7 separate regions of the Homo sapiens genome follow, and regions 1, 2, 3, 4, 6 and 7 are each reported to be linked to region 5. Evidence: microRNA targets listed by miRTarBase, many of them from high-throughput screens and not tested one by one. Region 5 holds a microRNA gene; each other region holds the end of a gene's coding sequence.
The links. The annotated mature microRNA hsa-miR-4755-3p reads AGCCAGGCUCUGAAGGGAAAGU and lies in region 5 at 1,492-1,513, shown strand. An mRNA with a match to its seed (bases 2 to 7 or 8) in the 3' UTR can be bound and repressed. Matches are read on the target gene's strand: a 7mer-m8 pairs with bases 2 to 8, a 7mer-A1 pairs with bases 2 to 7 and ends in A, and an 8mer does both.

Region 1 (4,283 bases), not on the chromosome of region 5:
AAGCCCACAAAACCCAAGCTTTAAGAGTCTTTTCAACGAACCCAAGTGTCCTTTCTCCTAGCTTAACTCCACCAATCTGGCCCAAAATCCAGTGTTCTCACACCTCCAGGATCCTTAGGTAGCTCGTTAGATCCAAAGCAGTTGTGAGAGACAAGTCCCGGCCATCCCACACCCTCCACCATGGAGCCCAGAGACAGAAACAGGCCCACAACAGCCTAGTTCTCACCTGCCTCCATGGCCCAACCCCGGGGAGTAGGAGCCCCAAGGGTCCTGAGGCGCCCCAGGGTGCAGAAGCTGGGAAAAAGCCTGGTGGGTAGCTCGCAGCAGGGGCCCAGAAGCGTGGGGGGTGCTTCAGAGGGGAAGGGAGGTTACTTCCTGAAACAGTGGAGGGGAAGCTGCAACTCAGAGGAAGTCAGCCTATGGGTGTGTGTGGTGGCGGTGGCGGTGGTGGGGTTACCATTGAAGGTGCCAGCACAGCATTACGCCAAGTTGGAATCTCAGACTATAGGATCCTGAGCAAGGCAGAGGAGGCTCAGAATGGTTCCAGGATGTGCAGTCCTGCTAACCTCCTGCTGTTCCCCCAGAGAACAGGGAATAAGGAATCTCATAGAGCCAGGCTGGCTTTCTTCATCACCTGGCCTCTGGACACACACACACACACACACACGCACACACACACGCACACACGTACACACACCAACCCCAGCTAAATTTAGACTCCACTTCTGGGAGGTAAAGCCAGGAGTCAGCGTCAGCCTCTTGATTTAATTCTGGGGCACAGACCTGTCCCTCATCCACTGAGGGCGAATGGGAGCCCTATGCCCAAGGCAGCAGGCAGAGGCCATTAGGTGGGACCTTCTGAGGGGCAAGTGGGTGGCACCCATCCGCAGGACCTGCGCACCGGGGCCTCCCCTCACCAAGCCAGGGAAGAGTCCTGCAGAAAGCAGCCCTTTCTCCCTAGGGAAGACAACGGGCACAGGGCCCACTCCGGGTCCCCACGCCCGCGTGCCGGGTGACGGGAAGTTCGGGTTGGGGCAGAGGGCGCGCCGAGGGGGAGGAGGCTGAGGAAGGAGCAGGAGGGCAGAGAAGCAGGCGCGCCGGCGGCCGAGGACGTGACGGCAGCAGCGCCGGCCGCCGCGTGACCCAAGCGGGAGGGAGGGCGGCTCCGACTCCGGCACCCACGGGAGCAGAAGGGGGTGCAGGAGGCCGGGCACGGCGAGCTAATTGCGGGAGGTGCCCTCCCCTCCACTTTCACTTCCCCAGGAGAGAGGAACCGGAACCAGATGTGCAGTGAGGGACAGCAGCTGGGGGCCATCCCCCACCCCGCCTGCCGCCCGCGCTCCCTCCTGCCCGTCCCCGCCTGCCGCCCAGCCCGGTCCAGCCCCTACCTGCCTGTCCCGCGCTTCCCGGCCGGCCGGCCCGCTGGCGGGTGGCTCGGAGGGCGAGCTGGCGGGCCGGCGGGCGGCGGGGCTACCCGGCCCCAGACATGGCGCACCCGACTTGGGCGCCGCTCCCGCCCGGGCAGTGAGTGAAGGAAGAAGAGGCGGCCGAGGACCGCAGAGCGCGGGGCGCAGTGGAAGGAGATCCGGGCGGTCCCCGCGTCCCCGCCGCGCTGCGCCACGCGGGGACTGTGCTGCCGCGCTGCTCGCTCGGCCGGCTCGGTCCTCCCAGCTCCCGCGGCGCCGGGGACCCAGCGTTCCTCCGCGCGCCCCGCTTTCTCTACTCCCCCAACCCCCGCTCCGGGCCGCGGGCGCCGCCGCTACCCCCACCCCTCCTCCTCGGCCGGCGGCCGTGACCCTGGCAAGCGTCTGCCCAAAGCCCAGCCGCCTGCAGCCCGACCCCTGGCGGCTGGGAGGGCCCCCTGCACCCAGGTAGCTTCCCACCATCCAGCCCGTGCCTCAGGACACTGACCCCAGGCGACCCAGAGGGCCGCGGCGCGCTCCCTTCCCGCCTGGGTCCTGCAGTCAGATGTGGCAAGCATGATGTGGGCGCAGGTGAAGTCCCGAAGGTCTAGTCTACGGGGACCCAGGTGGCTCCCCCTACTTCCAGGTTTAGGGCACAGGGCATTCCCTTTGGACCAGAACCAGAAGCTCTCAGTTCTCTTTTTTGAAAATGACAAGAGCTTTGGAAAGAGGAAGAGAGGCCAGGACTGCAGGGTGTGGAATAGAGCAGTGGAGGTGGGGGTAAGGTAACTGCGGGGCTCTACTTTTCTCACTATGCGGGTTGGGGGAGTGAGGGGTGCAGAGGCCCACACGGCTGGTCCAAGGGCTGGCAACCCAATCCAGAAAGAGAAAACCTTCAGAACATGCATGGCACTGAAGGATCTGTTTAATTAAAACTAAAATGAATGAGTGGTGAAGAGTGGAGAGGGTGAAGTGAATGCATGCATAGTGAGGGAGTGAGGATGAAGGCTTGCTTCCCTGAGACCTAGGAGCACTTCAGACCTGTGGGCTCAGCCAGCAATCACCTCCTTACCCGACTCACTGCCAGACCTAGGGTTGAGGAAGAGGAATAACTTGTCTGATCAGTCAAAGCCCCCATCTGATGCTGCAGCAGGGCCCTGGACAGACAGGAGGGCACATGAAGTGATTTCCTGCTGCCGTGGAAGCCTACATCCAGCTGGGTACAAATTCCGAGGCTGTGGGGCCCTTCCACAAAGCACAGTGGTGCTAAGAAGATGCAAAAAGCCTAATAGATAAAAAGACCCATGGCCCTATAACTCCCTAGATCCCCAGCCATGCCCCAAATAACTAACCACACCAAGGGTTTGATATGATTTTTTTATTAACATATAATAATATATTTAATAAAAAATAGTATCCACTCTGGCTCTCTCCTCCACTGCAAGGGGAAGAGTGGTGAGGAGGGGCTGGCACTGCCCACCCCTAGGCATCCGGAAAAGCCCTGCTTCCAGGGCTCCCCTCTACCCCTGCTTTCCAACAGGCTCTGACCTCCAGACAGACGGTTCAAAGTTACAAGTGCTTTAGGCCCTCCCTTGAGTTCCCCCAGGCCCATCCCTTGCGCAGAATTCAGGGGCCACCTGGACAAACCCCTTGCTTTTTCTCATTCTTGGCATCCTTCATTCATGCTAGAAAGAGGATCTGGGGACAGAGAGTAGAGTCTCTACCTGCCAGGGGGAAGGGAGGAAAGGAATGGTGGTGGGGGATGGGGCCAAGAAGAGGGATGGTGATGAGGTGCCCTCATTGGAGCCGGTCACTGCGGAATGACTCCTCCACAGCAGGATCAGGCAGCAGGGCACAGGGGTCACTCAGCATGTTTAGCCCTTCCAGGCCCAGTGGCTCCATGCGCAGCTCATCTTCTAGCCCAAGCCCTAGCTCCAATCCAGCTGCTGACACCTCAAAGCCAGGCACTCCGGCCAGGGCTGCTGCAATCTCCTTAGAGAAACCTGGAGAGGAGTCCCCTGTGGGTAGAAGAGACAGGTGAGGACCCCATGTCCTGTAAACTTTTCCAAGACCCCTCAATCTCCTACTCATTAGTGAATGTGTCACTTCCTCCTTCCATTTCCCATCACCACCCACCCCCATTCACCTGTGAGGATGATGTTAGGCCCTGAGCCATGGCGGGAACAGTGGGTCAAGTTCTGGTGGTTGAAGGTGTGGGGATCCTGGGGGCCACCCATTGGCCCCTCACCCCCTAAAAATCCAGGCCCTTCAGAAAAGCCAGGGGGATCCAGCACCAGGCTGGCTGATGGGCTCTCCATGCTGAACTGCTCCAGCTATAGACATACAGACAAATCTTTAGGAAGTAGGATTTAGAACTGGTGTCCTGCCTAGCCCTGCTAACATATCCCCTTTGCCCAGCAACCTTCATCCACCCCAGGAACAGAGGCAATGACAGAGGGAGGTGGCAGCAAGCAGAGCGACAGAAGCGAGCACGGGGCCCGAAGTAAGTATGGGCACCGTACCTGCTGGGCCAGAGCATGTGCATGCCAGGAAGAGAACGGGTCAAGGCAGAAGTCATCAAAGAGCAAGCTGAGCAGAAATAGAGGGGCAGGAGTAGGGTCAAACGCAGGAAGAGAGGAGCCCCAAGCTGGCAGTGCTATGTTACCTCCGGGGAGAGGAGATCTCCCCACCACCCACCCCACCTAGATCTCCCCATTCACAGTGCACCAGCCATGCCATTCAGGCCCCATTGACCCACCCTCACCCACTCCCCTGCTTTTGAGCAAGGAGCCTGAGTACTCACATTCCCCAGGTTGAAGTCACTCATTGGCCGGTGGTAAGACTGTTGCCCATGCCCACTGGGCCCAGGTGGGTACGGTG
Region 2 (4,283 bases), not on the chromosome of region 5:
GACTGCCAGGTGTTCCGCTCAGACCATGGCAGCTCCATCTCCTGTCAACCACCTGCCGAAATCCCCGGCTACCTGCCAGCCGACACCGTGCACCTGGCCGTGGAATTCTTCAACCTGACCCACCTGCCAGCCAACCTCCTCCAGGGCGCCTCTAAGCTCCAAGAATTGCACCTCTCCAGCAATGGGCTGGAAAGCCTCTCGCCCGAATTCCTGCGGCCAGTGCCGCAGCTGAGGGTGCTGGATCTAACCCGAAACGCCCTGACCGGGCTGCCCCCGGGCCTCTTCCAGGCCTCAGCCACCCTGGACACCCTGGTATTGAAAGAAAACCAGCTGGAGGTCCTGGAGGTCTCGTGGCTACACGGCCTGAAAGCTCTGGGGCATCTGGACCTGTCTGGGAACCGCCTCCGGAAACTGCCCCCCGGGCTGCTGGCCAACTTCACCCTCCTGCGCACCCTTGACCTTGGGGAGAACCAGTTGGAGACCTTGCCACCTGACCTCCTGAGGGGTCCGCTGCAATTAGAACGGCTACATCTAGAAGGCAACAAATTGCAAGTACTGGGAAAAGATCTCCTCTTGCCGCAGCCGGACCTGCGCTACCTCTTCCTGAACGGCAACAAGCTGGCCAGGGTGGCAGCCGGTGCCTTCCAGGGCCTGCGGCAGCTGGACATGCTGGACCTCTCCAATAACTCACTGGCCAGCGTGCCCGAGGGGCTCTGGGCATCCCTAGGGCAGCCAAACTGGGACATGCGGGATGGCTTCGACATCTCCGGCAACCCCTGGATCTGTGACCAGAACCTGAGCGACCTCTATCGTTGGCTTCAGGCCCAAAAAGACAAGATGTTTTCCCAGAATGACACGCGCTGTGCTGGGCCTGAAGCCGTGAAGGGCCAGACGCTCCTGGCAGTGGCCAAGTCCCAGTGAGACCAGGGGCTTGGGTTGAGGGTGGGGGGTCTGGTAGAACACTGCAACCCGCTTAACAAATAATCCTGCCTTTGGCCGGGTGCGGGGGCTCACGCCTGTAATCCCAGCACTTTGGGAGGCCCAGGTGGGCGGATCACGAGGTCAGGAGATCGAGACCATCTTGGCTAACATGGTGAAACCCTGTCTCTACTAAAAATATAAAAAATTAGCCAGGCGTGGTGGTGGGCACCTGTAGTCCCAGCAACTCGGGAGGCTGAGGCAGGAGAATGGCGTGAACTTGGGAGGCGGAGCTTGCGGTGAGCCAAGATCGTGCCACTGCACTCTAGCCTGGGCGACAGAGCAAGACTGTCTCAAAAAAATTAAAATTAAAATTAAAAACAAATAATCCTGCCTTTTACAGGTGAAACTCGGGGCTGTCCATAGCGGCTGGGACCCCGTTTCATCCATCCATGCTTCCTAGAACACACGATGGGCTTTCCTTACCCATGCCCAAGGTGTGCCCTCCGTCTGGAATGCCGTTCCCTGTTTCCCAGATCTCTTGAACTCTGGGTTCTCCCAGCCCCTTGTCCTTCCTTCCAGCTGAGCCCTGGCCACACTGGGGCTGCCTTTCTCTGACTCTGTCTTCCCCAAGTCAGGGGGCTCTCTGAGTGCAGGGTCTGATGCTGAGTCCCACTTAGCTTGGGGTCAGAACCAAGGGGTTTAATAAATAACCCTTGAAAACTGGATCGGATGAATTGGCTTTCATTGTGTTCCTAGCATCTTCTCAAATCAACTTCCCAGGACTCCAGGGTGAAGGAGGAAAAGAGGCATGGCCCAGGCCCTGGGGTGTGGGATATGGTCTCCCTAGGGGATGACAGTTGGGATCAATGGCCTGTGACTTCTCCTCTCCCTTCCCCCATCCTGGGACCTAACTGGAAATAAAACCTTGACTGTTGCCCGGGTGTCATTTTACCAGTGGATTTCTGCCAGGGCTTGTGTCCTAGGAGAAGGTTTAAGTTAAACCAGATTGCCCAGGTCTCCAAACGATTTGTCATGCTGACCTGAGATCATCGAAGGGGGCACCTGCCCCCGGGCAAGGTTGCAGGGGCAGGATGGGGCTGAAGGGATGAGCAGGGTCCCGGGCCCACCTGCTGATACAGCATTGGCCATGTGGGGGCTGCAATCGGATTTGGAAGACCCTGGGGCTTGGGGGCATGTCCAGTTTTCCCAGCTCCCTAAAAAATGACCATGCAGCCTGGCGCCGTGGCTCATGCCTGTAATCCAAACACTTTGGGAGGCTGAGGCAGGCAGATCACCGGAGGTCAGGAGTTCGAGACCAGACTGGCCAACATGGCAAAACCCTGTCTCTACTAAAAATACAAAAATTAGCCAGGCACAGTGGCACGTGCCTGTAATACCAGCTACTTGGGAGGGTCAGGCAGGAGAATCACTTGAACCTGGGAGGCGGAGGTTGCAGTGAGCCAAGATCACGCCACTGCACTCCAGGCTGGGCGACAGAGTGAAACTGTGTCTCAAAAATAAAAATAAAAATAAAAAGACCATGCCTACATCTGTGGTCATTCCAGGCAAGGCAATGAAAAGGCAGGGTTCTGAGGTCCAGCAGGGCTGGGTTTGAATAGGATCCCTGGCCGGGCACGGTGGCTCATGCCTGTAATCCTAGTACTTTGGGAGGCCAAGGCAGGCAAATCACGAGGTCAGGAGTCCAAGACCAGCCTGACGAATATGGTGACACCCCGTCTCTACTAAAAATACAAAAATTAGCTAGGTGTGGTGGCAGGCGCCTGTAATCCCAGCTACTCCGGAGGCCGAGGCAGGAGAATCACTTGAACCCAGGGGGCGGAGGTTGCAGTGTGTCAAGATCGCGCCACTGCACTCCAGCCTGGGCGACAGAGTCAGACTCTGTCTCAAAAAAAAAAAAAGAAAAAAAAGGAATAGGATCCCTCACTTGCTGTGGTATGCGGGGCAAGTGTTTTATGATCTCTGAGCCTCAGCTTGCTCATCTGTGAAATGGGGATCCTAGGGAAAGGGAAGGCCTGGCTTCTGGCTTAGTTAAGGGGCAGATTAAGAAATAAAAAGAGGCTGGGTGCAATGGCTCACACCTGTAATCCCAGCAATTTGGAAGGCTGAGGTGGAAGGATCACTTGGGGCTCAGGGGTTGAAGACAAGCCTGGTCAACACAGGGACATCTCGTCTCTACAAAAAGTTTAAAAAGTTAGCTGGGGGTGGTGGTGTGTGCCTGTGGTCCCAGCTACTTAGGAGACTGAGGCGGGAGGATCACCTCAGCCTGGGAGGGCAAGGCTGCAGTGAGCTATGATCACACCACTGCACTCTAGCCCTGGGCAACCGAGCAAGACCCAGTCTCAAAAATCGATAAATAATAATAATTAATAAGAAAAGTCATCAGCGAGTTGGCCAAGGTCACTCAGCAGGGCTATGGGGGCTGTGATCGCATGGACTGTCTCTATGGCAACAGCAGTGAGGATGACAGGTGGCCAAACTTGGTCCGGGAACGTATAATAGCTCAATCTTTTGAATCTAGCGCTCCCGAATTACTATGGCAACCGTAGGGCACTGGGCCAGCTCAAGGAGAGGGCGAGGGAAGCCTGGAGCCACGCCCCCTGGGCACGCCCCCGCACGGCCTCTCCCCATTGGTCAGTTCCGGAGGCCCCCACTGCGCGAGCAGCTATAAGAAGGGCGGGCGGGACCGGCGGGGGTGTGGAGACTCGAGCCTGGGGTCGGCGGAGACAGCTGGTGTCTGAAGCCGCTCGCGCCCAGGTGAGTGCCCTGAGGGCGGCGTCCGGGAGCGCCCCCCCGGGCTTAGGAGAGGAGCTCCAGATAGGGTGGTTGGGCGAAGGTCCGGCGGCGTGGGACGGGTATGACCGGCCAGAGCAGGTGGCTGGGACCCTTGGCCCGGTTGGCCCCAGCTCAGGACCCAGTTGGGCGAGGACCAGGCCTCAGAGGACGCGGGGTGGCAACCGGAGGGATCGCAGGCGGCAGGTCTGAGGCCCGAGGTCGAGCTCCCCCCCTGTAACTCTAGCTGGCTGCGTGACCTTGGGACCAGCATGGACCTGCTGCGTACCTCAGTTGCCCTGTCTGTCAAATGAGCTGTGAGTGGACTGGGACCCAGCAGCTACCACCTCCAGCCGTCTAGGGTGCTTGGGCAGTTCTGGGCCCAGGCAGGGGCCGCAGGGGTAGCAGGGACCTCCCACATCTTACAAAACAGGAAGCAGCCCAGAGAGGTGAAGGTGCTTGCCAAAAATCACACAGCTGGCCAGGTGCAGTGTCTCATGCCTGTAATCCCAGCACTTTGGGAGGCCGAGGTGGGCAGATCACTTGAGCCCAGGAGTTTGAGACCAGCCTGG
Region 3 (4,283 bases), not on the chromosome of region 5:
TCCCCCGCAACAGCCCCCTGCCCAACTGCACTTACGCTACCCGCCAGGCCATTTCCCTGAGCCTGGTAGAGGAGGGGAGTGAGCGGGCCCGCCCCAGCCCAGTGCCCAGCACCCCTGCCTCAGCCCAGGCCTCACCCCACCACCAGCCCAGCCCAGCACCCCTAACACTCAGTGCCCCAGCTAGCTCTGCCAGCTCTGAAGAGGACCTGCTGGTCAGCTGGCAGCGGGCATTTGTGGACCGTACTCCACCACCTGCTGCTGTGGCCCAGCGCACAGCCTTTGGACGCGATGCCCTCCCTGAGCTGCAGCGCCATTTTGCCCATAGCCCCGCTGACAGAGATGAGGTGGTCCAGGCACCTTCTGCCCGACCCGAAGAGAGTGAGCTTTTGCTACCCACAGAACCTGACTCTGGCTTTCCCAGGGAGGAAGAAGAGCTGAACCTGCCTATCAGTCCTGAGGAAGAGCGCCAGAGCCTGCTGCCCATTAACAGGGGCACAGAGGAGGGGCCAGGCACTTCCCACACCGAGGGCAGGGCCTGGCCACTCCCCAGCTCCAGTCGCCCCCAGCGCAGCCCCAAGAGGATGGGGGTTCACCACCTGCACCGCAAGGACAGCCTGACCCAGGCCCAGGAGCAGGGCAACCTGCTCAACTAGGGCCCCTGCTGGCCTTCCTGCCATTGCTGCACCAGGACTGCAAGGAGTCCCCACACCTTGGCAGCTCAGGGTCCCCAGTCCAAGCCCTTGACCTCTCCTCTATCCAGACCCGCACAGCTGTTTCCTGTGTGGATGGGGTCAGGTTGTGGGCCATGCCAGGCCTGTCAGCTGCGTTGACTGACTGCAGCAGCTTGCCTCATGGTTTTCCCTTTTTCTTAGAATATTTATTCTTCAGAGGTAACATGCAGTTGGGTCTCAAGACCTTTCCTCCAATCAGCCCAACCCAGCCCAGACTGGGCTTTTCTGGGGAGCTGAGGAGTTTATCAGTATTCATCTTCCATCCTTTCATAGTCACAAGTTTTGTTATTTTGTTTTTTTTTGGGGGTGATGGTGTAATTGTTAACCTCATTTCCGTTTCCTACCTGTTTGCTTCCCCCCCCAGTCCTCCGCATGAGCTGTTGCCCTCCAGGGGCCTGGCACAGCTGGCCTTGGGGACGAGGGAGAGGACTGATTCAGGGCCCCCTCAGCTGTCTCCTCCCTCCCTCTGGAAAGGAGGGTGGGGCTCAGGGGCCTCAAGCTGGGCTCTGTGTGAGGCCTGGCCCCCACTCCCAACCTTGGCTCTAGACTGTTACTCTTAAGCTTTGAGAAATTTTCACATTGATGACTATTTTAAAATCAAATAAAACTATTTTACTGGTATGGCCTAACTTGTCTTAATGACCTCCCCTCTCCCACTTTTCTCCCCATTCATAAGTATTCCCAGTCCTAGTCTCATCCTAGTCGGCTAGTGACTCCCCCTCGCCCCACTCTGCCTAGGGTTTCCCTAGGCACAGAGCATCAGGGAGCGGGAAAGGGGGCACCTTAAGTAACCTTAGCAGGGTTCCTGAGTCTTCCCTCGGAGGCAGGGACCATATCTTTATGGGGCTAGTGTAAGGTGTTGCCTCAGAGGCCTGGGTTCTAGGCCTGGCCAGGCCTATTTTGAGATCCTGGACCAGGTCACGCAGCTTAGAGCTTGGGCTGTGCGATGCTACTGCCCCCTAGTGGTGCTTACTGGTAGTTCCAATTCCTCCCCTACTGCCGGCCCCAAGTGACTACAGCCACACGACAGGTTGTGGAGTTCATAAAATCTTTTCCGAGCCAGCGGGTTGCAGCCAGAGCTGCCAAGTTCAAAGGCATTGCCGTGGGTTCAAGTGCCCCCCAAGGCTGTTGCTCAGTCACAGCTTCCAGAGCTTCCTTCCCACCACACTGCCAGGAGCTGCCAGAGCCCCCATGCAGCCCCTGACCCCAGTTCCCTCCCAAGTCCCAGGGCCTGACCCTGATATCTGGGGCAAGGTGCTCGGGACATAGATAAGTGAAATGGTGTGCAGAGGCCCAGTGGAGAGTCACATCTCGGTCTCAGCCAACAGACTGTCCCCTAGTCCTGACGTCATTAGCACCATCTGAGAGCTGGGATCTGTGGAAGGGCAGAGAAGTGTTCAGACCACCATTCCTTCCTCCAATGGGGACCACAGATAGGTGAGAGCCTAGGTTCTGCACACCCACTCTCCCTTGTCCCGAGCCTCTTCCAGACCTGGCTCTGATCAACCCTCTGGGTTCTTACCGCTGGGGCACATCCAGGAGCTGCTGCCTCTCTGGTGGGCAGCAGGCTCCCGCCCTCTCTCCCATTCCTGGGTGTCGCCAGCCCCTCCTGCCACTTCCTCCTCCTCCTCTCCCTCAGAGAGGAGGTCACAGATCTGTTGCTGCAGCTCTGGGCTAATGCTGTTCTCAGCCAACACCAGGCTCCGCAAAGCTGTGGGGTAATTTTCTACCATGTCCAGCAGGGTCTGAAGTGGGGAAGAATATGGAAAAGGATGAACACAGTTAAGGCAGGTCCTCAGACCTCAACCTGCCATGCCTTAGGTATGTCATCAGACACATAAACTAACCTCCACCCCATCCCCTGGCCGTGCCCAAACATGACGACTTCCCACCTGAGCTGACTGGTTGGTGAGCCCTGTGCCCTCCAAGTCTAGGACCTCTAGGGTACGACTAGAGGCCACAGCTACAGCCAGCATTCCTGCCACATGGTCACCTGGGGAGACAACACACGTGCACACATTCATACACATGCCTGCTAATCCTTACAGATAGCTTCCCCATTGCCTTAACAACTTTAGATACTAATCCCTGGCCAAGGAAACATGGACAATTGGTGGTGGTCAGGAAGGGATCATTGTGATTGGTGAGTGAAGGCACGAAGCAAGTTAGGCCCACGGGTGGTGACTGATGTTTTGATCTATTTGTTGGTCACCTGGTCCGCCACAAAGCTATCTCCTTGACCCCTGGGGGCTCCCGTTTCTCTTCCCTCTCCCAGTGTACGGGTTACCATGTCAACTGATGGTCCCAGGCTCTTGGATAGGGCATGAGGCAGTGACAGCCCAAGGGGGTATTCTTGAGCCTCACCCAGGGGGTTGTAATCCAGATTGAGGACGCGGACCTGGGAGCTGTGGGCCACGGCAATGGCAAGGCGGCTCCAGCCCTTAGGGGTGATGCCAGGGTTGGCACTCAGCGTTAGCTCCTTCAAGCCTGGGCAGCATCATAGCAAGAAACCAGAATAGGGAGGGTTAAGCCCTCCTCCAGCCCTTCCCCACAATCCCTGTGTCTCTGGGGTGTCCCTAGTGGCTGGGCACCACCTTACCCCCACCATAGAGGTCAAGAGCCATTAAGGAGGCCCATGCTTCCTCTGCCTGCCCCAGCCTGGATTCCTGAGTCTCCATGCTGCCCCCCGTCCTGCCCCTTCCTGAGAGGAGTAGAAAGATGTTCTCGCCCACATCATCAGAGCTCTGGGGCCACACCCCCTTCCCTCTGCATTTCGATTTTCATCACTGCCACACTAGCCCAAGCCCTCAACAGGGTCCTGCTCACCAGATTTGGCCCCATCTGGGGGCAGGAGGCCACAGATGAGGTTGATGGCTTCATCACCCAGCATGCAGTCCCCCAGGTCCAGAGCCACGAGGGCAGGGTGGAGGGCCAGGGCTGGGTTCAGCAAGGCCAGCCCCGCATCTGTCAGGGGGCTCCCATGCAGGCTGGAGGAGAGTGAGAGAGCAGGGTTACTGCAGTCCTCCGCACTATCTACATGGGAAAGGGGCACTTTCACTTCTGTCAGCCCTAGGTATGGGGAGGGCAGTCACAGCGCTTGAGAGGCCTGGAAAAGGAGAAGGAAAGTTCTAGATTCTCAGGGAATACAGATAGAGGGAGAATTCGGTTTGTTTTCTGGGGCAGGGATCCAGGACATTGCACAGGGAGGGGCAGAGAAGGGGTGGGTGGGTGGTGGACCGGAACTCTGCAGTGGGCAGGGCTCTCGTCCCCACGGGGATATTCCCCCTTGGGAACCAAGGAGCTGCCCCAGTGAAGTAAATGCAGATGATTAGGTGGGGAGGTACGGCCCCCACCTCATGTCAGGAACTGGTGGGTATCCCAACACGGCTAGGGTCGCGCGTGCAAAGTCCAAGCATGTGCTTGGAGGGTGCTGTGAAGGCATGGGCCGAGGCACGGTGTATGTGCATAAGGCATGTGAAGGTAGGATGGTACTGGAAGGAGTGTGGAGGAACAGGAGGTGCCAGGGGAGTGTATGGAAGGGTGCAGTGCCCG
Region 4 (4,261 bases), not on the chromosome of region 5:
CTATAGTGACAGAAAGCAGATCAATGGTTGCTTGGACGTCAGGAGTGGAGAGAGAGATTGATTGCAAAGGGGTACAAGAGGATGATGGAAAGGTTCTGTATCTTGATTGTGGTGGTGGTTTCCCAGGTGTATATGGTATATCTGTCAAAATTCATAGAATTTTACACTTTAAGTGTATAATTTATTATATGGAAATAATACCCCAATTTTTTTTTTTTTTGAGATGGAGTTTCGCTTTTGTTGCCCAGGCTGCAGTGCAATGGCACAATCTTGTCTCACCACAACCTCTGCCTCCCGGGTTCAAGTGATTCTTCTGCCTCAGCCTCCCGAGTAGCTGGGATTACAGGCATGTGCCACCATGCCCGGCTAATTTTGTATTTTTAGTAGAGACAGGGTTCCTCCATGTTGGTCAGGCTGGTCTCAAACTCCGAACCTCAGGTGACACGCCCACCCCGGCCTCCCAAAGTGCTGGGATTACAGGCATGAGCCACTGCACCCAGCCTTCATGTATAACTTTTAACTCCCTGTAAACTTAATTACTGTTGACCAGAAGCTTTACTGATGACATAAACAGATTACCACATATGAAGTATATTCTATGTATTACACACTGTATTCTTACAATAAAATAAGCTAGAGAAAAGAAAATGTTATGCCTGTAATCCCAGTACTTTGGGATGCTGAGGCAGGAGGAATGCTTAGGCCAGGAGTTTAAGACCATCCTGGGAAATGTAGTGAGACCCTGTCTCTTTAAAAAATTAAAAAATTAGCTGGGTATGGTGGTGGGCACCTGTAGTCCCAGCTATTCAGGAGGCTGAGTGGGAGGATCGCTTGAACCTGGGAGGTGAAGGTTGCACTAAGCCAAGATCTTGCTACTGCACTCTAGCCTGGGCAACAGAGCAAGACACTGTCTGAAAAAAAAAAAAAAGGTGGGGGGGGGAGAGAATGTATTTACTATTCATTAAGTGGAAGTGGATCATCATAAAGTCTTCATCTTTGTCGTCTTCATGTTGAGTAGGCCAAGGAGGAGGAAGAGAAGGGTTGGTTGGGGCAACAGTGGGAGAAGAGGCGGAGGAGGTAGAATAGGGGGTAGCAGGGGTGGGGGTTCAGGAGAGCCAGGCATACTTGGTATAACTTTTTTTTTTTTCCAAGACGGAGTCTTGCTCTGTTGCCCAGGCTGGAGTGCAGTGGTGCGATCTCCGCTCACTGCAACCCCCGCCTCCCAGGTTCAAGCAGTTCTGTTGCCTCAGCCTCCCAAGTAGCTGGGATTACAGGCGCCCACCACCACAACCTGCTAAATTTTGTATTTTTAGTAGAGATGGGGTTTCACCATGTTGGCCAGGCTGGTCTCGAATTCCTGACCTCATGATCCGCCCACCTCAGCCTCCCAAAGTGCTGGGATTACAGGTGTGAGCCACCGCACCTGGCCGGTATAACTTTTATTGGGACAAATCCACATGTAAGTGGATGAATTTGAACTGCACAGGTCCATTTATATGTGGATTTTCTTCCACCTCTGGGGTAACATTTCTATCACCCTCTTAAAAGTTTTCTTGCACCCTTTTGCAACCAAACTCTCTCTCAATCCTTGACATTCAAGCAACCACTGGTCTGCTGTCACTATAGTTCAGCTGGCATTTTCTAGAATTTATCCCATGGGAAAAACCAAGGCAAATGTACAATGATATATGTACATTTATCTCAATGTTATTTAGAGTTGTCAACTGGAGAAAAACTTAAATGACCATTATTAACAGACTGAATAAATAATGACCATCTATACAATAAAATACTGTACGCCAATTGTAAGAGTAAATACAGTGTGAGGGTAAAATTTTTTACATAAGTAATACATGGTACATTCTGTTATACAAAAGGAAACCATTACAAAAAGGCTAAGGCCCTTTTGTCACTCCCAACCCAGAAGATCACTGTAAAAGTTTCAGGTGCATTTTTCCAGGCTTTTTCTATACATGTATACATCTACGTGCATATTTATATACACATAAAAATATATAATAATTTTTTTTTTGAGACGGAGTCTGGCTCTGTCGCCCAGGCTGGAGTGCAGTGGCTCAATCTTGGCTCACTGCAGCCTCTGCCTCCCTGGCTCAAGCTATTCTCCTGCCTCAGCCTCCCGAGTAGCTGGGATTACAGGCACCCACCACCACGCATGGCTAATTTTTTTTGTATTTTTAGTAGAGAGGTTTTCACCATGTTGGCCAGGCTGGTTTTGAACTCCTGACCTCAAGTGATCTGCCCACCTCGGCCTCCCAAAGTGCTGGGATTACAGGCATAAGCCACCGTGCCTGGCCATATAATGTTTTGAAGGTACTCCTTGTCCTGTGTCCAGTTCTGCAACCTGCCTTTTCTACTCAACAATGTCTTTGTAATCTCTTCATGTTAGTACACACACTATACAATTTATCTTTTTCTCAATAGCTACCTATAATGGACATTTCATAGTGTATTTGGGCTTGCCTTTACTGAGAAATCTTTAGATGAATTCTAACTTTTTGCCATTGCTAAATTAAATTTATATGTATTGATATAGAAATATCTCTATATTATATTAAGTTTTTTAGAAAGCTGAAGTGGAATATTTATATGGAAATAAACTTTTATATAGGTATCAAAAAGATTGGAAGGACACCAGTTTGCACAATTATTTTAGTGGAAGGAAGGAGGTTGGTTTATAAGCAGGCTTTGACTTTTTCTTTTTCTTTTTTTTTTTTTGAGAGAGTTTCACCCTTGTTGCCCAGGCTAGAGTGCAATGGCAGGATCTTGGCTCACCACAACCTCCGCCTCCTGGGTTCAAGCGATTCTCCTGCCTCAGCCTCCGGAGTGGCTGAGATTACAGGCATGTGCCACCACGCCCGGCTAATTTTGTATTTTTAGCAGGGACAGGGTTTCTCCATGTTGGTCAGGCTGGTCTTGAACTCCCGACCTCAGGTGATCCGCCCACCTCAGCCTCCTAAAGTGCTGGGACTACAGGCATGACCCATCACGCCTGGCCTTTTTTCTCTGAGACAGAGCCTTGCTCTGTTGCCCAGGCTGGAGTGTGGTGGCTCCATCTCAGCTCACTGCAACCTACGCCTCCTTGGTTCAAGCTATTCTCCTGCCTCAGTCTCCTGAATAGCTGAGATTACAGGTGTGTGCCACCATGCCTGGCTAATTTTTTTGTATTTTTTTTTAAGTAGAGATGGGTTTCACCATGTTGGCAAGGCTGGTCTTGAACTCTGACCTCAAGTGATCCACCTGCCTTGGCCTCCCAAAATGCTGGGAATACAGATGTGAGCCGCTGCACCCGGCCAGACTTTGACTTTTCCAATTTTTTCAATGATAATCTTTTTTCCTGATAATATGTTCACAATCAAGTAATACCAGGGACTGCTGAGAAGTGGATGATGAAGGGTGATAAGGTATAGACTGTGCCCTTCTCTTTGCAGCTCCTGAGAGGGGATGGGAAGGGATTTTGGGAGGGTGAGAAACAGCTTTGTCTGCCCAGAGCAGCTCTGAAGGTGGCCCAGTGCAGAACAGGATCTCTGAAGGCAGAGCGGGACACCCATTCTGGGGATGGAAAGAGGGAAGACCGTTGAGGCCATTTCCCAGGTGGAGGACTAGGGGTGGGAGAAGTGACCTTCTGCTTGAGGATCCAGTCCACCCTTCACCCACTTCAGACATGGACTTGAGACAGAGAAGAGATTTAAAACCAGATTTAAAACCATCAGCTCCCAGGAGTGTGGCCTCCTCCACCTGCTCCCCAACTTTTCTGGTTCCAAAGGTTCAAGCCAGGCTCAACTCCCACTCCTCTAGTCTCCAAATAAGCGTAGCACGGAGAGTCTGAGTGACAATCCACTTTAATAATCCAGCTTCAGCTCAGCTGAGAACTTCCCCTCTCAGGTGCAAAGGGATGGCAGAGAAGTCTTTCCAAGAGGGCTCAATCCACTAAGAGATTATGGCTTAGAGAAGGGAACAGCTCAAAGAAGCCCTATAATGGGAGGCAACATGGAGTTTGGAATTAGTGAGTGACCAGATGGAGATGTCCTGCCACCCACCTCCCACCAACATATGTTCCAGCAAGAGAAGCACCGAGGTTTCATCTGTTCTTGACAGCCACCCCAGTCTTCTCAGCCCTGATCCCCTCTTCCCATCCCCTCATTTTCCATTTCTTTGGGTCAGGGCCCCTGAGCCTTGAGAAGAATAAGGACCGTTGTTTTATCTCTTTTTTCTCTTTTGTAGAGACATGGACTTGCCATGT
Region 5 (4,283 bases):
ATCCTTTAGCTCTCAGATCCTCTTTTTCCTTTTCTCTAAAATGATGTGGTTGATATCTGCTTTTGAGGTTGTGAGGATTTAAAATAACAGGTAAATAGGTGCCACACAGTACCAGATACTTAGTTGGGTGAGTAGCCTGGTGATCTGTGGCTGTTAGCTCTTTGAAGGCCAGTATCCCTAGGAGATAGCAGCAACGTCAGCACTGCTCTGATTCCCTGACCAACCCCCAACCCCACCTTTGCCCTCAGAAATACCCTGGACCCTTGTTTCCTTCCTCAAGTTCAGACCCCAGAAATGTTGGGCAAGAAGGAGCCTCCAGGCCAGGCTTTATTGTGCCAGATGTTATATCTGAGTAAGCAGGATTGTTACACAGCAGAGATACAGGAGCAGAGCAGGTAGCTCAGGCAGCTGCTGATGAACAAAAGGCTTCTTCTCTCTGTTCCCAATAAATTGGTCCTTGGGGATCCTAGCTTTGAAATTCTAATTGACACAGGAAGGAAAAGATTCATTAGGCTCTGGACTCGTTAAAATGCTCTGCTGCTCACCTACGATTTATTCTTGGCACTTCATCAAGAGGAATTAAGTAAACCAATGGGCTGGGAGGCTCCTGACAGCAGAGTCGTGTGTCTCTCGTGCTCCTGGGGGGATGAGAGTGTTGGGTCTCCTATGCTATGGAGCATATAGCTGGCTTTGGAATCTCCTCATCCCTAGGACTTCACATGAGTCTAAGTCTCATATGCTTTTAACAATGGAGGGACCTTCTGAGATCATACTGTGTAACTCATTTATAGATGGTCCAAAGAAGAACTGGGACTTGCTCAAGATCACGAAACGCATTAGTAGTGGAGTTAGAATTAGAATCAGTCAGGCTGCATGACTTCCAGGTCAAGAATATTTTCTCTGCGGCCGGGCGTGGTGGCTCACGCCTGTAATCCCAGCACTTTGGGAGGCTGAGGCAGGTGGATCACGAGGTCAGGAGATCAAGACCATCCTGGCTAACACGGTGAAACTCCATCTCCACTAAAAATACAAAAAATTAGCCGGGCGTGGTGGCGGGCGCCTGTAGTCCCAGCTACTCGGGAAGCTGAGGCAGGAGAATGGCGTGAACCCTGGAGGCAGAGCTTGCAGTGAGCCGAGATCGCACCACTGCACTCTAGCCTGGGAGACAGCGAGACTCCGTCTCAAAAAAAAAAAAAAAAAATTTTCTCTGCATCACCTTTGGATTTCTACACCCAGTGTTTCATTCATTCAGCCTTCAACAGATACTTTTAACACATTCTGTGTGCCAGGACTCTGTGATAAACAAAACAGCCATGGAGGAAAGTAAATACCTGACCCAGTATTAGGAGAGATTAGAAAGGCCTCCAAGTCTGAGAGATGGATAGGAATTAGCTCAGCAAGGAGAGATGAGGAAGGTTATGGCTGAGGAACTGGCATCTATGAAAGCCAGATTCAGCTTTCCCTTCAGAGCCTGGCTTTGGCATCTATGAAAGCCAGGCTCTGAAGGGAAAGTTGAATCTTGCTAGAGTGGAGAATTGAGGAAGAGATGAGATGTTAAGGCAAGCCGAGTCTATGAGGTTTGGGCCACTGTATGGTTGTAAAGAACCCTGGATCTGGGATTAGGAGTCCTGAGTTCTAGATATGTTTCTGCTACCAATATGTTAGTCATCATTCTAGTAACACTTCACATCTTTTAGGTGTGCCATGATGGGCACTGGGGTACAAAAATGTGTAAGATGTATGTAGTCCCCTCCCTCAGAGATCTGTCAGTTTAATGAGGCAAGCAGGCTAATTAAGAACCCCTGTAGTAAAGGAACAGTTACCTCTGCTGTAAGAAGTCAGAATTGAGCTGTGTGTTACTTTAAGCACTTTCTCTGGGCTTTGATGATCTCACCTGTCAAATGGTAAATAACCACTGTCCTATGTAGCTGGTAAACTGATGAGAAGACAGACAACTTTGTAATGATTGGCGTTTGTTTGGCATTTTGTGGATTTCAAAACACTTTTGACATCATTAATTCATTGAACCTTAACTGCAATCTTATGACTTAGGAAATTTCCCCACAATGTACAGATGAGGAAACTGAGAGAGGTTGAGGCTTGTTCATAGTTTCACAGCTTTTGATTAACAAAAGTTAGGATTATAAATCCAAATCCCGTGCTCTTATTTTGAAAAGTATAAAGATGGCAACCTTTCTTTCTATCCCCTACTTAGTGGCAAATTATCCCCTTCCCCTTTTCACAGTCACCAGAAATGCAGAGAATGTCTGCTGTGTTTGAAAAGCAGATCTAAGCTGACTGGGGAGAAAGAAAGGAGCTTATTTCAGGTCTTCTTCAGGCTGGACTCTAAACTTTTAAGATCATGTGCGCCCGTGCTCCCATCAGCTCCTGCTGTTCCATCTCATGCCATTTACAGAGTGCCATTTACTGAGCCACTACTTCATTGGCTACTCATAGCAACTTGTGGGGTAGACAAAGTGCACTTTACAGATGGGCAAACTGAGGTCCAGAGTCCCTGAATTGTACATGTCAGAACCAGGATTGAATCTAGAAGTCTTGGGCTCCTGACACCAAACAGGTGCTCTTAACTTGCAGAATGTAGGTTCCTTTGATTCAGTTCGGTTCAAACAATTCTTGAATATAACCCATGTGCCAGAGACTTTGCTATGCAAGAGAGCCTCTAGTTAGGCTCAAACCGTCTTGGTCTAGTGCCTTACTTAAGAACAGGGACTTGTATTATTTACTTCTCTGTCCCCAGGCAGGACCTTGATCCAAAAATGCTTTGCTGTTGTTTTTGGCCTTAATCTGCCAGAAACTAGAGGGAGCAGATGGCCACAGCAATGTGGGTTATGAGGATGTGATATCAGGCAGGGTTGAAGGATGAATTGAGAGCCCTGCACCCAACTACTTCTGTGTCTGTGCCTAGGCCCTTGTCAGGGTAGTCTCTATCTGAGAGTGTAGCTGGTCAGCCTGGTCCCATTTCTCATTTCCAGTCACCTCCCCCTCTTGCCATCCCATATAATGGGGTTAGTCTCCTGGACAGATCTCATACAGAGGCTGCTGGGATCTGCTGTCCAAATGACCCTTTGGACCTATTTCCCAGCCATGTTCCAAGATGATGGTGAGGAGTCTAGCCCCACAGCCAGTATGCTATCTCTATTCAGATAACTCCCAGCTCACAGGCCTCCCACCAGGCTCTCACCCACTCTGATGTTTTCACTCCTGACTCCTAAGAAGCAGATTGGCAATTTAGTGTGAGTCTGTCAGACAGCCTAGAGAGTAATCAATACTGAGAGAAATGGACATATTTCCTGTTTATTCAAAATCCTGATGAAAATTTTAAGGAGCACTATTTGGGAAGGGATGACTGGGAACCTTGCAAGAACAAACAGCTTAAAATTCATGAACAGAAATAGCAACGTTTATTCATGATGTTTCAAATGCCCCTAATATTCACATCTTTATATATTACAGACCCCTTTCATACGTGTTACTGCTTTTGAACCTTAGAGCAACTCTGTGAGGGAAGCAGTGTAAGGATTACTATTCCCACTTGACAGTTGAGGAAACTAAGGCCCAGGAAGCTTTAAAGAGAGTTAGGGACCATCTGATAGTCATGGTGGCAGAGCCCAAAACAGAACCAAGATTTGGAAAATGAGTACTCCTGGGTTTGAAATCTGGTGCTCGCCACTTTCTAGTTGTGTGACCTTTGGCAAGTTACTTGGCCTCTCTGAGCTCAGTTTCCTTCTCTGTAATACGAGGATAACAATGTCTACTCCTTATGGTTGTGTATGGATTTAATGATATAATTAATGGAAAATGCTAGCACAGTACAGAACATGTGTTAGGAGCTTAGTAACTGCAGGTATCCTATCTCATAGGATAGCGTTTTCAGTATATTGCACTCTGAGTCTTTGAAATTTGATACTTTTTTTTTGTTTTTGAGACAGAGTCTCGCTCTGTTGCCCAGGCTGGAGTGCAGTGGCGTGATCTCCGCTCACTGCAAGCTCCGCCCCCTGGGTTCATGCCATTCTCCTGCCTCAGCCTCCCCAGTAGCTGGGGCTACAGGCGCCTGCCACCACACCTGGCTAATTTTTTTTGTTGTTGTTGTTGTTTAGTAGAGACGGGTTTTCACCGTGTTTGCCAGGATGGTCTCCATCTCCTGACCTCGTGATCCAGGTGCCTTGGCCTCCCAAAGTGCTGGGATTACAGGCGTGAGCCACTGCGCCCAGCCTGATACTTTCACTACAGTAAAATGGACTACATATAATAAATTCTCATTA
Region 6 (4,283 bases), not on the chromosome of region 5:
ATCTCTACTAAAAATACAAAAAATTAGCTGGGCATGGTGGCGGGCACCTGTAGTCCCAGCTACTCGGGAGGTTGAGGCAGGAGAATCACTTGAACCCAGTAAGCGGAGGTTGCAGTGAACCAAGATCACGCCACTGACTCCAGCCTGGAGGACAGAGTGAGACTATGTCTAAAAAAATTTTTTAAATAATATTTATACTTTCCTCATCCTATCAAACTCATGGCCTAAACTTTTTTTTTTTTTTTGAAACGGAGTCTCGCTCTGTCACCCAGGCTGCAGTGCAGTGGCGTGATCTCAGCTCACTGCAACCTCTGCCTCCCGGGTTCAAGCAATTCTCCTGCCTCAGCCTCCCGAGTAGTGGGACTACAGATGCCAGCCACCACACCTGGCTAATTTTTGTATTTTTAGTAGAGATGGAGTTTTATCATATTGGCCAGGCTGGTCTCGAACTCCTGATCTTGTGATCTGCCCACCTCGGCCTCCCAAAGTGCTGGGATTACAGGCATGAGCCACCGTGCTTGGCTAGCCTAAGCTTTTTATCTAGTTGTACCTTTTTTCTTCTGGCTCTGAAATTCTGTGAATTTTGAATTCTCTGTACTTTTCAAGTATGGGAGCAGCTCTGAAATTTAGGGAAGTATCGCCCCCCTAAGGACAAAAGAGAGACTACAGCATATTTAGCAGTCGTCTCCCCAACTCAGAAAGTGGGTTTTCCGAAGGAGCAGTTCACCTTTTCTGGAGCAGGGAACCCAGAGGGAAGAGACTCACCCATGCTGAACACCTACTGTGTGCCTGGTGTTGTGCTGAGTGCCTACTGTATGCCTGGTGCTGTGCTGAGCACTTTGTACAAGCCCCCTAATCCTTATAAAAGCAACCCGATTAGGTGGCAGCCATTATCCCCATTTTGCAGATGAGGAAGCTGAAGCTCAGAGAGGCTAACTGACTTGCTCAAGGCTCACAGCTAGTTGATGGCCCAGACTGGCATTTGCATCTAGGCTTGTCTGTCCCGAAAGCTGATGTCCTTCCTGCTGTCGCTCAAAATACACCTCCCTTTTCCTTTCCCTTCCAACACCTCAAATAGCACAACCCCCTGTCCAGCACAGACCCAGGGAAGACCCCTCCCAGAACCCTGGCCTGCTGGCCTGGCTCCTCAGCCCCCGCTAACGCTGTGCCTACCTCCCTTCTTGCCTGTCTCAAGGCAGCACTGTACGCAGCACCCTATAAGTCTGACTTCCTGAAAGCGCTCTCCAAGGGGCAGAATGTTACGGAGGAGGAGTGCCTGGAGAAGATCCGCCTCTTCCTAGTCAACTACACGGCGACCATCGATGTCATCTACGAGATGTACACCCAGATGAACGCTGAGCTTAACTACAAGGTGTAGGCATGCCCACTGCTGGACACGTCCCCGACTCGTGGCCACATGGAGAAACAGGCAAACCAGAATCACTGTGAATCAAGTCGGTGAACTGCCCCTGGCCTGTGTCCCCCAGAGCAGCCCAGGGTCCTGCCAGAGTCTGCAGGGGACAGCCCTCGTTTTTTAAGTCTTTTTTTTTTTTTTTTTTGGTCTATTCTAAAGGACCAGTAAATAATGATCTTACTTCCAAATCTCCTTGGAATTTCACGACAGCACAGACTGACTTTATACCTTCATTTCAGCGTGGTAAAAACCGATTAACACTTCTAATGAGTCAAGTCCTAGGGTTTTTTGGTTTTGTTTTGTTGCCAACGAGGAACACAGCTCTGGGGGAATGGTGTCATCCACCTCGCTTTAAAAATAAGCACATGATGGCTGGGCACCGTGGCTCACGCCTGTAATCCCAGCACTTTGGGAGGCTGAGGCGGGTGGATCACCTGAGGTCGGGAGTTTGAGACCAGCCTGGCCAACATGGTGAAACCCCATCGCTACTAAAAATATAAAAAATTAGCTGGGCATGGTGGCGCACGCCTGTAGTTCCAGCTACTCAGGAGGCTGAGGCAGGAGAATCGCTTGAACCCGGGAGGTGGAGGTTGCAGTGAGCTGAGATCGCACCATTGCACTCCAGCCTGGGCAACAAGAGCGAAACTCTGTCTCAAAAAAAAAAAAAAGAGGTGGGTGGATTACTTGAGGTCAGGGTTTGAGATCAGCCTGACCAACATGGTGAAACCCTATCTCTACTAAAAATATAGAATTAGCCAGGCATGGTAGCGCACGCCTGTAATCCCATCTTCTTGGGAGGCTGAGGCAGGAGAATCGCTAGAAACTGGGAGGTGGAGGTTACAGTAGCCGAGATCGCGCCACTGCATTCCAGCCTGGGCAACAAAAGCGAAACTCTGTCTCAAAAAAGAAAAAAAAGAAAAAAAAGCACGTGACCTTATGAGGCTCTCGCTGTATTGTTATTTTAAGGACTATAAAGAGTTTGATTTAAAATTATGCAGGGCCCCTATGTGGGATTTTTTAAAAAGCAAACTGGTGTGTATTCTCATGTGGTTTGCACAGCCCAGCCTCACAGCACTATTGTAAACCCTGCTCTTTCTGTCTCGCTAGACAGATTTTTTTGTTTGTTTTCTTTTTTCTGGTTGTTTTTTGTTGTTGTTGTTGTTGTTTTACAGCTGAAACCAACCAGCAAGCCCTTGATGACCAAGAGGCGTTTCTTTCAAAGCTATAGGGCACAAACAATTGACCATAGATGACTCCGTTTGCATTCTTCTGCAGAATTATTTCCTTCAGGGACAGATTTTCCAACCTAAGAAACTACCTACCGTGTGTATTCTCTTGACGGGGAGAGATGAACCCTTCAGCTGCTAAGATCCAAGAAAACGCCTCACTGCCTTAACCTTAACTGTTCTTCCTGGCGCTAAAAAGAGCTGTATTTTTTAAAGTGCTGGGGCAAACAAAGCAACCCCAAAAGAGTTGATGTGTGTTTTAAAAGAAAAAACCCAATGAGGAACAATTGGAGATTTTTATGCAGAAACTAAATAATCCTTAATAAATAAATCTCTATTTTGGAATCACATCTGTGCACTGTATTGGTTCTTGATTTTTTTTTCTTTCCTGCATCAGAAATTACAACTGGGGACCCTTACAAATCCTACCAAGAATGTATTTTCTGGCGTCCATGGTTTTAAAATTTTATTTATCTATTATTTTTAAATGTTTTTGTAGAGATTGGGGTCTTGCTATGTTGCCCAGGCTGGTCTCAATCTCCTGGCCTCAAGCAATCCTCTTGCCTCAGCCTCCCAAAGGGTTGGGATTACAGGCATGAGCCACTGCACCAGGCCTGGCCTCCGTGGTCTTAAAAAACAGAACTGGTTGCTGCATGGAGAAACGGGAATTTCACATAAGAATCTTGGGTTTCGGCAGGGTGCAGTGGCTCACTTCTGTAATCCCAGCATTTTGGGAGGCCGAGGTGGGTGGATCACTTGATGTCAGGAGTTCGAGACCAGCCTGGCCAACATGGTAAAACCCCATCTCTACTAAAAATACAAAAATTAGCCAGGTGTGGTGGCGGGTGCCTGTAAACCCAGCTACTTCAGAGGCTGAGGCAGGAGAATTGCTTGGAACCAGGAGGCAGAGCTTGCAGTGAGCCAAGATCGCACCATTGCACTCCAGCCTGGCTGATAAGAGCGAGACTCCATCTCAAAAAAAAAAAAAAAAAAAAAAAAAAAAAAAAAAAATCTTGGGTTTCTGTAGCCATAAAAAAGAATGAGTTCATGTCCTTTGCAGGGACATGGATAAAGCTGGAAGCCATCATTCTCAGCAAACTAACACAGGAACAGAAAACCAAACACTGCATGTTGTCACTCATAAGTGGGAGTTGAACAACGAGAACACATGGACACAGGAAGGGGAACAACACACACTGGGGCCTGTCAGGGGTGGTGGGTAAGGGGAAGGAGAGCATTAGGACAAATACCTAATGCATACAGGGCTTAAAACCTAGATGACGGGTTGATAGGTGCAGCAAACTACCATGGCACGTGTATACCTATGTAACGTATAATTAAGAAAAGAACCTTGGGTTTCTAGCTTCTTTTGAAAAACCAGGCTGCCTGGTGGGAGCTGAGAGACGACTGCCCCCTTGGCTGGGCAGGGCAAGGGAAAGGGGAATCAGTTCTTCACTTTGCCTTAGTCTCCACCCATCCCTGTTGCCTCCCCACCCCGGACCAGTTTGCACTTTTTCATGGGCTGTTGTTTTTTCTTATTCTAGGGTTAAATGTAGAGGGAAATATTTATTTTATTTTGTTCCTGCTCCTATAGAGCTTATAATCTAGTGGGCAAGATGGACCGGTAAATCAATAATGATGAA
Region 7 (4,283 bases), not on the chromosome of region 5:
CTTCTTTGATGAAGCCATTTTGTGGAGGTGCTGAAATCACATACTTCGTTTTATGACTTGATGATCCTATTCTTTTTCTAGGCCAGAGAAAGCTAACATTTGTATTTTCTGTTTCTTGGTTCAGGTGCTGAAACCAAGAACCTACAGTTACTGGTTCCAAAAACTGAGATATGTGAGGAAGCTGAAAAACCCCTCATCATATCAGAAAGAATCCAGAAAGCTGATCCTCAAGGACCTGAGTTAGGAGAAGCTTGTGAAAAGGGAAACATGTTAAAGAGGCAGAGAATAAAGAGAGAAAAGAAAGATTTCAGACAAGTGATAGTGAATGACTGTCACTTACCTGAAAGCTTCAAAGAAGAGGAAAACCAGAAATGTAAGAAATCTGGAGGAAAATATAGCCTTAATTCTGGCGCTGTTAAAAATCCAAAAACCCAGCTTGGACAAAAGCCTTTTACGTGTAGCGTGTGTGGGAAAGGATTTAGTCAGAGTGCAAACCTCGTTGTGCATCAGCGAATCCACACTGGAGAGAAACCCTTTGAATGTCATGAGTGTGGGAAGGCCTTCATTCAGAGTGCAAACCTCGTTGTGCATCAGAGAATCCACACTGGACAGAAACCTTATGTTTGCTCAAAATGTGGGAAAGCCTTCACTCAGAGTTCAAATCTGACTGTACATCAAAAAATCCACTCCTTAGAAAAAACTTTTAAGTGCAATGAATGTGAGAAAGCCTTTAGTTACAGCTCACAACTTGCTCGGCACCAGAAAGTCCACATTACGGAAAAATGCTATGAATGTAATGAATGTGGGAAAACATTTACTAGGAGCTCAAACCTCATTGTCCACCAGAGGATCCACACTGGGGAGAAGCCCTTTGCCTGTAACGACTGTGGCAAAGCCTTTACCCAGAGTGCAAATCTTATTGTACATCAGCGAAGCCATACTGGTGAGAAGCCATATGAGTGTAAAGAGTGTGGGAAAGCCTTTAGTTGTTTTTCACACCTTATTGTGCACCAGAGAATTCACACTGCAGAGAAACCTTACGACTGCAGCGAATGTGGGAAAGCCTTCAGTCAGCTCTCTTGCCTTATTGTCCACCAGAGAATTCACAGTGGAGATCTTCCTTACGTGTGTAATGAATGTGGGAAGGCCTTCACATGTAGCTCATACCTACTTATTCATCAGAGAATTCATAATGGAGAAAAACCTTACACATGTAATGAGTGTGGGAAGGCCTTCAGACAGAGGTCGAGCCTCACCGTGCACCAGAGAACCCACACTGGGGAGAAGCCCTATGAATGTGAGAAGTGTGGTGCAGCTTTCATTTCCAACTCACACCTCATGCGACACCATAGAACCCATCTTGTTGAATAACAAGTAAGGAAGAGGAAGACCTCCAGCATTGGTCATAACCTTCTGCCTCCCTAATGAGACACCTCTTTGCTGTTTTCTTCCTCCTCTATAAAAGTGAGGGCTGTGTCCTTAAAAGTTATAGTTTTCAGGAATGCAGCAGAAGACACAAGAAAAGCATTTCAGAGGCTAATTTAAAACAAAAAGTAAGCACCTAAAGGCAAGGACTTTGTTTTAACTGTACCTTAAGCGGTCATGTTCTCTGAAGTGGAATGTGGCTTTCCTAGGAATGGGTCGTACAAAGCTAAGTGGTAATGATGCTATTTGGGGAAAGGTCTTTTTTGCTTAATTTTGTTTTTTAAAACTCTGATGATTGCTTGAGCAACAGGCAGGTTATCTGCCTGGTTGAATTCTGGTTGAACCGTGTATTCTAATATTTCTGGTTAAGTGGTGACTGGGTAAGGAAACCACTTGGGGTAGCAGTTCAACAATTCACTTACGAATGTTTATAAGCTTTCCATTTCCTAGGTAATTTTTTAAAAGCCAGTCAAAACAAAAACTTTACTGAAAATGGACAGAAATAGGAAATGGACTTTTTCCTTACTGTCTATACCTCCTGAACCTTGGTATTGTAAAGATCTGGGGACCTCTGGGTCTGTTCTGACCATTCCCTAGTCTCCATGGCCAAGCACTCAAGGATTGATGGACACCACACACCAGCTATATTCATTTGCCAAGATCAACAGCTCCTTCTCCAAACAACTCAAGCCCCCAATTCCCATCGCATTCCATTTGGGTGAGATGCAACTAACAGCCCCTTCCTGGATGAAGGAGTCAAAGAATAAAGCTTGCCTAGAGGCATGCCCCAGTTGTCTCTGCTGTCATTCTGCTCAAGTCCAGCCAGGGGTCTCAGTTTGGGTTTCATTCTCACATTCTGGATGGTGTTTAGAAGAAATAGTGGAGCTCTTCTCATTCTGAGAAGACCAAAGAGGGAAAGTGATGGGAGAGGGGAGGTGGAAATAAGATTCCTAAGGTCTTAATTTGATTTTTTGAGAAATTCAGAGGTATTGGAATATGAAAAACTTTTAGAAGGATGAAGAAACTGGCCAAGGTAAGATATCTTTGTTACCATTCAGCCTTTACTCCTGGAAAAATGATTTATAAAACTATGCAATAGGTAGAGTTATGTAATAATATTGCCTTGTATTTATATAGAACTTTTATTCTTTGTTGTGTACCCTTATGTATTGATCATGATACCTGGCACGTATCTCACGCTTTCACATAGATCACCTACCTCAGTCCTTACAACACTGAAACAGGTGGTTGCCCATTTACCTGAGAATGGTCATTTAGTGCAAGGCCAAGTAACAAGTGACAGCTTATATCCAAGTCCAGGTCCTGAATCTAGATTCTCTGTTCTGCCATGCCACTTGCCAAACACCTGTAATCCCCATGCAGACCTGTAGGGGAGACAAAGAAAGGGGTGTGTAGTCCCATTTTTCAGGTGAGGAAGCTGATGTGACAGATGTTTGGAGTGTGCCTTAGGCACTGTGACCAGAAATCAGCAAACCTAAGACTAGAATTTGGGTCTCCTGATTTCTGGCTCTGTCCCTCCATGCTGTTCCAATGCCTCAGGGCATGCAAGAGCATTTATCATAAATGCTGAGCCTGATGCAGCTCTCATGCAGAAGTCCCATGCATTTATTATCACATTTCTGCAAGACTAAATATTAATCACATAGTGTTTTCTAGTTTACAGAGCACTTCTTTTGTGTGTTAGTTTTGTTTTGTTTTTGAGATGGAGTCTTAGGCTGGAGTGCAGTGGCACAATCTTGGCTCACTGCAACCTCTGCCTCCCAGGTTCAAGTAATTCTCTTACCTCAGTCTCCCGAGTAGCTGGGACTACAGGTGCATGCCACCACGCCTGGCCAATTTTTTTTTTTTTTTTTTTTTGAGACAGAGCCTTGCTGTGTTGCCCAGGCTGGAGTGCAGTGGCACGATCTTGGCTCACTGCAACCTCCGCCTCCCGGGTTCAAGTGATTCTCCTGCCTCGACCTCCTGAGTAGCTGAAATTACAGGTGCACGCCACCACCCCCAGCTGATTTTTGTATTTTTAGTAGCAGTGGGGTTGGTCAGGCTGCTCTTGAACTCCTGACCTCGTGATCCACCTGCCTTGGCCTCCCAAAGTGCTGGGATTACAGGAGTAAGCCACTGCGCCCAGCCTTTTTTGTATTTTTAGTAGAGACGAGGTTGCACTATGTTGGCCAGGCTGGTCTCAAACTCCTGACCTCAGGTGATCCACCTGCCTCGGCTTCCCAGAGTGTCAGGAATACAGGCACGAGCCACCATGCCTGGCCTACAGTGCACTTTCACATACAGAAGGCATACACAAGAAAGCTTATTAATTTCCTTTTTCCTCCCTCCTCTAGTTTTTTTTCCAAAACATATGCAACTTACTTTCCCAGTTTCACTCTAAATCATAGAGACACAAATACAAGAAATCAAAAGGATTCAAAAGTAGGATCAAATACTCATGCCCTCACCAATCCTAACAGTGACTGTTCCAGTCTCCCTGATGGAATGGAGAGACCCAAATAAACCACCCCCTGTCTCTGCTGAGAGTAGGAACAAGTTAGTTTTTTCCCCCTGCCTTATCAGGAAGCTGAGAATATCAGGAGAGCAGGTCTGAAGATTTGAGAAAACTCTGTGACCTTGACCCACCAAGAGACAGAAACTACTTTGCTTAAAGAATACCTGCTGGGATTTATGACCATTAAGACAGTTAAACCATTCTACCATCACATATGTTTATCCTCATAATATTCAGTTATGGATGATTGTGATTTTCACTCATAGGTAGTTCAGAAAAGCTACGCAGGGGATTATGATGCAAAACTAGGTTTGAGATTCACTGACCCAACCTTGCAGTAAAG

Region 1: miRTarBase lists CRTC2 as a target of hsa-miR-4755-3p. Seed matches in the 3' UTR shown: 7mer-A1 at 3,129-3,135.
Region 2: miRTarBase lists LRG1 as a target of hsa-miR-4755-3p. Seed matches in the 3' UTR shown: 7mer-m8 at 2,154-2,160.
Region 3: miRTarBase lists TJAP1 as a target of hsa-miR-4755-3p. Seed matches in the 3' UTR shown: 8mer at 1,125-1,132 and 7mer-m8 at 1,247-1,253.
Region 4: miRTarBase lists DNPEP as a target of hsa-miR-4755-3p. Seed matches in the 3' UTR shown: 7mer-m8 at 3,791-3,797 and 7mer-m8 at 2,222-2,228.
Region 6: miRTarBase lists GLTP as a target of hsa-miR-4755-3p. Seed matches in the 3' UTR shown: 7mer-m8 at 1,872-1,878.
Region 7: miRTarBase lists ZNF35 as a target of hsa-miR-4755-3p. The part of its 3' UTR that is shown has no 7-base or 8-base seed match.

The regions. Positions count from the first base shown.
Region 1 is chr1:153,944,909-153,949,191 of GRCh38, forward strand. CRTC2 (CREB regulated transcription coactivator 2) reads right to left here. Exons shown (of 14, transcript NM_181715.3): 12 at 4,207-4,283; 13 at 3,550-3,736; 14 at 2,767-3,421. The coding sequence ends at 3,201. DENND4B (DENN domain containing 4B) reads right to left here and starts at 1,810. Exons shown (of 28, transcript NM_014856.3): 1 at 1,393-1,810. RefSeq lists enhancers at 62-161, 482-531, 1,000-1,500, 2,312-2,381 and a silencer at 1,022-1,921.
Region 2 is chr19:4,534,578-4,538,860 of GRCh38, reverse strand. LRG1 (leucine rich alpha-2-glycoprotein 1) reads left to right here. Exons shown (of 2, transcript NM_052972.3): 2 at 1-2,459. The coding sequence ends at 921. PLIN5 (perilipin 5) reads left to right here and starts at 3,637. Exons shown (of 8, transcript NM_001013706.3): 1 at 3,637-3,696. RefSeq lists an enhancer at 3,931-4,283.
Region 3 is chr6:43,505,203-43,509,485 of GRCh38, forward strand. TJAP1 (tight junction associated protein 1) reads left to right here. Exons shown (of 11, transcript NM_001350562.2): 11 at 1-1,352. The coding sequence ends at 653. LRRC73 (leucine rich repeat containing 73) reads right to left here. Exons shown (of 6, transcript NM_001012974.4): 2 at 3,558-3,718; 3 at 3,096-3,218; 4 at 2,624-2,724; 5 at 2,254-2,476; 6 at 1,766-2,106. The coding sequence ends at 2,036. Among named protein-coding and RNA genes, the nearest start is that of LRRC73, 3.0 kb to the right of the region's middle.
Region 4 is chr2:219,370,352-219,374,612 of GRCh38, forward strand. It overlaps DNPEP (aspartyl aminopeptidase), which reads right to left. Exons shown (of 15, transcript NM_012100.4): 15 at 1,692-3,991. The coding sequence ends at 3,941. Among named protein-coding and RNA genes, the nearest start is that of DNPEP, 15 kb to the right of the region's middle.
Region 5 is chr20:34,047,671-34,051,953 of GRCh38, forward strand. It overlaps MIR4755 (microRNA 4755), which reads left to right and starts at 1,449; the gene lies at 1,449-1,520. The region is part of intron 2 of RALY (RALY heterogeneous nuclear ribonucleoprotein); the gene reads left to right.
Region 6 is chr12:109,849,650-109,853,932 of GRCh38, reverse strand. GLTP (glycolipid transfer protein) reads left to right here. Exons shown (of 5, transcript NM_016433.4): 5 at 1,196-2,988. The coding sequence ends at 1,378. Among named protein-coding and RNA genes, the nearest start is that of TRPV4, 18 kb to the right of the region's middle.
Region 7 is chr3:44,658,577-44,662,859 of GRCh38, forward strand. ZNF35 (zinc finger protein 35) reads left to right here. Exons shown (of 4, transcript NM_003420.4): 4 at 125-2,215. The coding sequence ends at 1,371. It overlaps ZKSCAN7-AS1 (ZKSCAN7 ZNF cluster antisense RNA 1), which reads right to left. Exons shown (of 3, transcript NR_157564.1): 2 at 2,686-2,810. Among named protein-coding and RNA genes, the nearest start is that of ZNF35, 12 kb to the left of the region's middle.